2 linked regions of the Homo sapiens genome follow. The protein of the gene in region 2 purifies or fractionates together with the protein of the main gene of each other region. This does not show direct contact. Each region holds a gene or a part of one and is shown on either strand. Other genes may lie near its edges.

Evidence for each region.
Region 1: the proteins of ERICH1 (region 2) and XRCC4 purify together in Homo sapiens (affinity purification with mass spectrometry; one large-scale study listed by BioGRID and IntAct). This does not show direct contact.

What each region holds. Positions count from the first base shown.
Region 1 is NC_000005.10:83,349,760-83,353,578, forward strand, and holds part of XRCC4 (DNA repair protein XRCC4), read left to right. Parts: intron 1-3,365; coding exon of another isoform or gene 3,366-3,371; coding exon 3,372-3,483; 3' UTR 3,484-3,819.
Region 2 is NC_000008.11:724,406-728,224, forward strand, and holds part of ERICH1 (glutamate-rich protein 1), read right to left. Parts: intron 1-3,819.

The sequences.
Region 1 (3,819 bases), on a different chromosome or scaffold from region 2:
ATATGATTTCAGCTTTTATTTTAGATACAGGGGGTACATGTGCGGGTTTGTTACAGGGGTGTATTGCATGATACTGAGGTTTAGGATAGGGATCTCATCACCCAAGTATTGAGCATAGTACCCAATAGGTAGTTTTTCAACCCATGACCCCTCCTTCCCTTCCCCATGTAGTAATCCCCAGTGTCTATTGTTTCCATCTTTATGTCCATGTATACCCAATGTTTAGCTCTCACTTATAAGTGAGAACACAGGTATTTGGTGTTCTGTTCCTGCATTAATTTGCTCTGAATTATGGCCTCCAGCTGCATCCATGTTGCTGCAAAGGACATTATTTCATTCTTTTTGGTGGCTGTGTAGTATTCCATAGTGTATATGTAATATATTTTCTTTACCCAGTCCACCAATTATGGCCACCTAGGTTGATTCCATGTCTTTGCTGTTGTGAATAGTGCTGCAATGAACATGCCAGTGCATGTGTCTTTTTGGCAGAACACTTTGGGTTTTTTGGGAGGTATATGCCCAGTAACGGGATTGCTGGATTGGATGATAGTTATGTTTTAAGTCCTTTGACAAATCTCCAAACTACTTTCCACTGTGGCTGAAGTCATTTACATTCCCACCAACAATGTATAAGTGTCCCCTTTTCTCTGCAGCCTCTCCAGCATATATTATTATTTGACTTTTTAATAACAGGCATTCTGATTGGTGTTAGATGGTATCTCATTGTGGCTTTGATTTGCATTTCTCTGATGACTAGTGATGTGTAGCATTTTTTTTTCATATGTTTGTTGGTTGCTTGTGTGTCTTCTCTTGAGAAGTGTCTGTTCATGTCCTTTGCCCATTTATTAATGGGGTGATTTGCTTTTTGCTTGTTGATTTAAGTTCCATATAGATTCTGGATATTAGACTTTTGACAGATGCATATTTTGAGGATATTTTCTCCTATTCTGTAAGCTGACTCTTTACTTTGTTGATAGTTTCTTTTGCTGTGTAGAAACTCTTCAGTTTAATTAGGTCCCTCTTGTCAATTTTTGTTTTTGTTGCAGTTGCTTTTGGGGACTTGGCCAAAAATTCTTTGCCAAGGACAGTGTTGAGAAGGGTATTTCCTAGGTTTTCTTCTAAGTTTTTTATAGTTTGAAATCTTACATTTAAATTTTTAAGCCATCTTGAGTTAATGTTTGTATATGTTGAAAGGTAGGGCAATATGGTTTGGATTGGTGTCCCCACCCAAATCTCATGTCTAATTGTAATCCTCAATCTTGAAGAAGGGGCCTGGTGGGAGGTTATTGGATCCTGGAGACAGATTTCCCCCTTGCCATTCTCATGATAGTGAGTGAGTTCTCATGAGATCTGGTTTAAAAATGTGTGGCATCTTACCCCCCGCTTCCTCCTTCTCCGGCCATGTAAGACGGGCCTGCTTCCCTTTCACCTTCTACCGTGAGGCTTCTCAGCCATGTTTCCTGTACAGCCTGTGGAACTGTGAGCCAATTAAACCTCTTTTCTTTATAAATTACCCAGTCTCAGGTAGTTCTTTATAGCAATACAAGAATGGACTAATACATAGGGGCACAGTTTCAATCTTCTGCAAATGGCTAGCCAGTTTTCCATGCACCATTTATTGTATTCACCTTGCTTGTTTTTCCATTTCTTACTTTTAATTGAGATAGTTCAGTTATCTCTTTTGTCTAGGAGGAGCACAAGCAACTCTAAGACATTTTGGCCAGAGAAAAATGTTTAACGTGTTTTGAGTTGACAATGAAAATGTATATATATAATAATTATACTTTTATCCCATACTATATCATTTTCTCCTCCTTTGGAATATATTTTTAGATATTTAATTCCATGTTACAATAATTATGCCTGTATTTATTGTTAATTTTAACATCGCAAATCCCAGAGGGTAGTACTTGTCATCTTGAATGCATTAATGCCTAGCACCTTGGCACTCCTGTGATGATGTTGTCTGAAATTGGCTTGCTCAGAATAAGACAGAACATGTCCCAGGTCTAGTGGCAGCCAACTGTAGTTAATTGTCTCTAATCAAGATGCCAAGGAGAACTCATTTCTAATAATCTGTGCAACTAGGTAAGGGTGCAGGCTTTTAAAAATACTCATCACCTAAACACACTTGATATTTGGGGGTTTTCATTGGTTATTCTTCTCTGCTGTTAACGAAACTCTTACATAGTTTATGGGGTATTAGCAGGTAATAATAATAGTTTCCAAATTCTTTGTGGGAATTTACAAGCATTTACATTTACATCAACTCATTTCATCTTTAGACCACCTCTAGACAAATACTAATATCTCAGTTTTACAGTGGACAGAATAGAAGCCCACTTAGTTTAAATGACTTGCCTAAAGTTACATAGCTAACATGAAATAGACCTGGGTTCAAACTTGTGTTTCCTGACTTCAAGTCCCATGCTTTCTCAGCTATACCAAGGTGTTGTGACTCTACCCCCGCCTTTGAACTTGGAAATAGAGGGGTATTACCAAGTATTACTGGGTTAGCTCAACCTAATCATAATTGCCCCAGAGGCCACCTCTAATTGATAATATTAAGCATACTTTATTAAGGTTCCATAGAGAACCACTGACAAGGTTTCTACAAGGATATTAACACACACTCCACAGCTTTACTTCTGATTGAGCTCTGTTATTCTCTGGCACAGTCTTCCTAAGACCAATTAATAGTGATCATGGCAGTCAGCCTGTTATCTTAGGATTCAAAGAAAATATCTACATAAATATAGCAGTCAATCCATTGAAGTAGTGACTACAATACTGAACCTGAATAAAATTTAGTTTACTAAATGAAGATATGCAGATTCAATAAATGATTATGGACCAACATTTCATCAGCAACTGCTATAAATGTGAAAAATCATTATTTTTCATATATACACATGATCATCAGACCCACTAAAGGTAATTCATGTGACCAAAACTTTCTGCTGCTAAGAGATTAAAATGCATGTTAATCAGTAGAATTTAAGAAAGCCAGAGTAAAATGTAAATTGTGATGAAATCATTAAAGGAGTAACTTGAAAAACCTTCTATATCCTGGCATAAAAGTGATTATAGCACAGAGGACAGAATATTTTATTTCTTGACCTTGATTATGAGTATTGTTATAGGTTCTTGAATTTTCCTTAGGTCAGAATAGAGACATTAATTCTAAAGCAGTTAGAGAAATTAGTCTCTTTATCTCTTTCCTTATAGTTAATAGCATAGAGAAATAAATCTCTAAACCAATTTGAAACAGGATTTAACTGTCATTTCACTTATGTGTCTCTTCATTTTCTTTTACTCTATAACAGAAGTTTTTAAAAATAAAACTATTTTGATTTTCTTTTCAGTTCTAGGCCTGATTCTTCACTACCTGAGACGTCTAAAAAGGAGCACATCTCAGCTGAAAACATGTCTTTAGAAACTCTGAGAAACAGCAGCCCAGAAGACCTCTTTGATGAGATTTAACAGTCTCAAAAAATACTTTGATGTTCACTAGACTATGTTTTCTATTCATTTCTTTAAAATGAAAAAGGAGAATTTCAAGTCAGCAGCCGCTATTACCGTATCTTACAATTTAATTACATACACAGTGAATTGAAACCATTGTGCAAAATGGATTACACATGTATACAAAGATACGATTTGATGATGACACTGGCACATTATTCTAAACTATTCATTCAGCATGCCTATAATTACATAAATTGTATGAGACTTTTTGTTGCAAAGGACACATTTATCATATTCATTCACACATATTATATGTGATAGCTGTCCAACATCCTGTCTGGGAAGATTTTG
Region 2 (3,819 bases):
GCGTTCACAAACACCTTACCTTCACGGGCGGCTGCAATAGTTTTCATTAAGCACTGGTAAACACACCCAGCGGGATGCGAGCAGCCCAGGGGCTTCCGGAGAGGCCGGCACTGCCCCGACGGGGGCGGGACCTCAGAGCAGCCCACTCAGTTCTCGGAGTCAGTTTCTCACCAAAACAAGGCTGGGCTAAAACACGCTGAGAGGTCATTGGGAAGGCCGTTCAGCAAGCTGCTTTATGAAAATCAGGAGACACCAGATAAACTACACCTTTTACTCCAATATTGTTATTTTTTCCACTTTCATTAAACATTGGCTTTTTCCTTAGATAGGTCCTGAATTCAGCCCAAAGAACTTGCAACCCATAAGGGATTCCACACCGACAAGCCCCGTGTTGTTTGCACGGGCAGGTTACGCTCACTGAGGAACGCTATCAAAGATGTGGAACCCAGAACCCGGGAAGCAGCTGTACCTCCTGCACCCACGCCGCCTGGCCCGGACCACGAGGGAGCCACGGCTGCCCCATTGTGGCCTCCTGGACCCCACTTCTTCCCTGCGCCAGCCACGAAGGACCATGTGGTCCTTTTCGGGTGCTGTGGTTTCTCGTCCCACACCCTGACGCAGTGATGCCTGCTCACCTGCTGACCCCTCCGGCTTCTGTACCTGCTGTCCCCTCCGGCTTCCTGTCTGCTGTCCTCTCTGGCTTCTTGTCTGCTGTCCCCTCCAGCCTCCGTGCCTGCTGACCCCTCCGGCTTCCTGTCTGCTGTCCCCTCCGGCTTCCGTGCCTGCTGTCCCCTCCGGCTTCCGTGCCTGCTGTCCTCTCCGGCTTCCTGTCTGCTCTGTTCTCACAGGCACAAGGGTCCCCTACCTCCGTGTCTACTGCACCCAGCGGACAGGACCAGCGGCAGTGACCAGCTTGTGACTCCATCAGAACCTTGCATGTGATCGGTCACCTGGCTGGGTCCTCACGGTGCTGCCGCCCACTTTACAGATGAGCCACCTGAGCATTAGTAGAGTGAGCTCTGAGGCAGCAGCCCAGCAGGACTGACCTCGGTGGCCATCCCCATCGAGACCTAGGCCTGCTGTGCACTGAGGCGCCAGCCGTCAGGGATGGGCACATTGGGCATCCACCACCTCCTCGGCCCACTTCCCTCTCCAGCTGTACACCAAGCACGACTCTCTCCCAACCTGCAAGCAGCCGAGACTGCAGCTGCCCCCATGTCTGAGCAGCTCCTGCAACCCTCCTCCAGCCGTCGCAGTACCGCATCTCTTCATCCCCACGTGCTCTGGCCTTGCCATCCCTGCACCTGCCCTTCCCTGCTGGGGCCGACCCTCACCCCCCAACCTCACCATGCACCAACACTCCCGCAGGACCTGGCTGGCACGGCGCCTCTTCCTTTGCCAGGATTCTCTAAACCTCCCTGTTCCATGAGGCTGATTCCTTCCTTCTTCTCTCCCCTCCTTCGTTCATTCATTCAGTCATTCACTTGGGAAGCGCTCCTGAGCACGTTGTCCTTCCTTGAAGATGGGAAAAGAGGTGCCAACTCCTGTTCTGGAGGAAGGATTCTACCACATCTGAGTAGAAAATGTCAAAGCCACATGTGTCAATGAACACAGCCCCACTTCTCCTGCAGCACAGCAATGACTCCTGTCCAGTTCTGCACACAGTCCCACACACGGGGCCAGAATGAAAGTCGGCCCCAACAGAGTCACCAGGCACCCAACCAGACCAACGCCATGCTGTAAGAAGAAAAAGGGGCCTCTTTCCAATGGAAACAAATCTGAGCCAGCATCTTCAGCTCTGGGACTCCAAGGGAGAGGCAGGTATCACAGGCAAGTTGCAGGGTACAGCTGGGAGATGCACACACCACACAAGGACACACACAGACACGCATGTACAAACACGCCACACGCAGACACGTGTATGCAGGCACACAACACACAGGCGCACATGCATACACAGGCGCACATGCATGCATAGACACACAGGAAAACACACAGACACACATGTACACCCATGCCACAGGCAGACACGTGTACACAGGCACACAACACACAGGTGCACACACATACACACACAGGCACACATGCATGCACATATACATAGGCAAACAGCCAGACACTCATGTACACACACACCACACACAGACACGTGTACACAGGCACAAGACACACAGGCGCACACACATACACACACAGGCACACATGCATGCACATAGACACAGGTGAACACACAGACACACATGTACACAAGTGCCACACACAGACGTGTACACAGGCACATCATACACAGGCACACACATGTACACACACAGGCACACACAGGCAAACAGATATGCATGTACACGCACACCACACACAGACACATGTACACATACACACATACATGAACATGGACACATGGACACACACCACACATGCACAGACACAGACACCACACAGGCACATACGTATGTACACAGATACACATGCACACACATGTACACACACATCCCAGACATGCATGTACACACAGACCACATGCAAAACACACATACATACACCACACAGGCACATACACATGCACACACGTACACATACACATACACACACGCACACCACACAGGCACACACATGCATGCACACACATACACCACTCAGGCACATACACATGCACACACGTACACATACACATACACACACGCACACCACAAAGGCACACACATGCATGCACAGATACACACCACACACACCTGCACAGATGCACACAGACATGCATGCACACATACACCAGACACGTGTGCACAAAGGCATACACAGACACGTGCACACATAGGAACAGCGGCACACATACATGCATGCACATTGACAATATGCACACACAAGCTCACAGACCCACACCTACACACAGACATCTCTCCCGGACTACCAGAGCTGCAGGAACTGGCACCAGTGCCAGCACCGTGGACAGCGCCAGCGATTCCTGGCGTGTGAAGTTGGGGCAATCCACTCCCTGAGGTGCAGGAGAAACCAGAAGATGACAGGGAGATGGTGAACAGGAAGTGTGACTGCTCACAGCAAGGCACTGGCAGCTCCAACTTCATCTGAGGAGTCTCAGGAAGACAGAGGCCGCCTGCCTGCTGCAGACCCCTTGGCCCTGGAGGATGCACCTGCAAGGGCGAGTGAAGCTGTCCTGTGCGTGCAGCAGTCACAGCAAGAATGGATTCTTATTAAAAAGCATCCAAGCATCCTGCGCTCCAGCACATGTTCCCCAGGCTGACACCAGGCTGGGTGCCTACCAGGAGGAGGCCTCTGGGACAGGGCTCTGTGGCCTTCCCTACAGAAGGCCCAGCCGGGCCAGCAAGGCCGGGCCAGCAGCATGGTGCCCTTGGAGCTCTCTCCTTGACGCGAGCGGCTGGCACCACTGGACCACCTTGATGGGAAACTGCAGGACAAGGAGTCAAAGGACTGGCCTCAGGGTGCAGTGAGACGAATGCAGGGGGCACTGTGGGGCAGGGACTCTGCTTAAATCCAGGGGCGCATCCTCCCACCACACACACAGCAGCAGGCGGTGAGGACAGGCCTCATGCAGGGAGACAGGGAGCGGCCGGACAGCCTGGCACTCCTCTGACTGCTCAGGGCTGGGCCCTGGGACGGGGCTCCCGCCTCCATGAGGCTGTGGTCCTCACCCCAGCATCTGAGGATCGTCTCTGCCAAGCAAACCCCACACAAGCTTTGCCTCCTCCGGAAATGTCCCTGAAGCACACATGGAGTCAGGGAGAGGGCCAGAGCCAAATCCCTCACAATGACCAACCACCAGGGAGGAGGCTCCGCCAGCCCAAC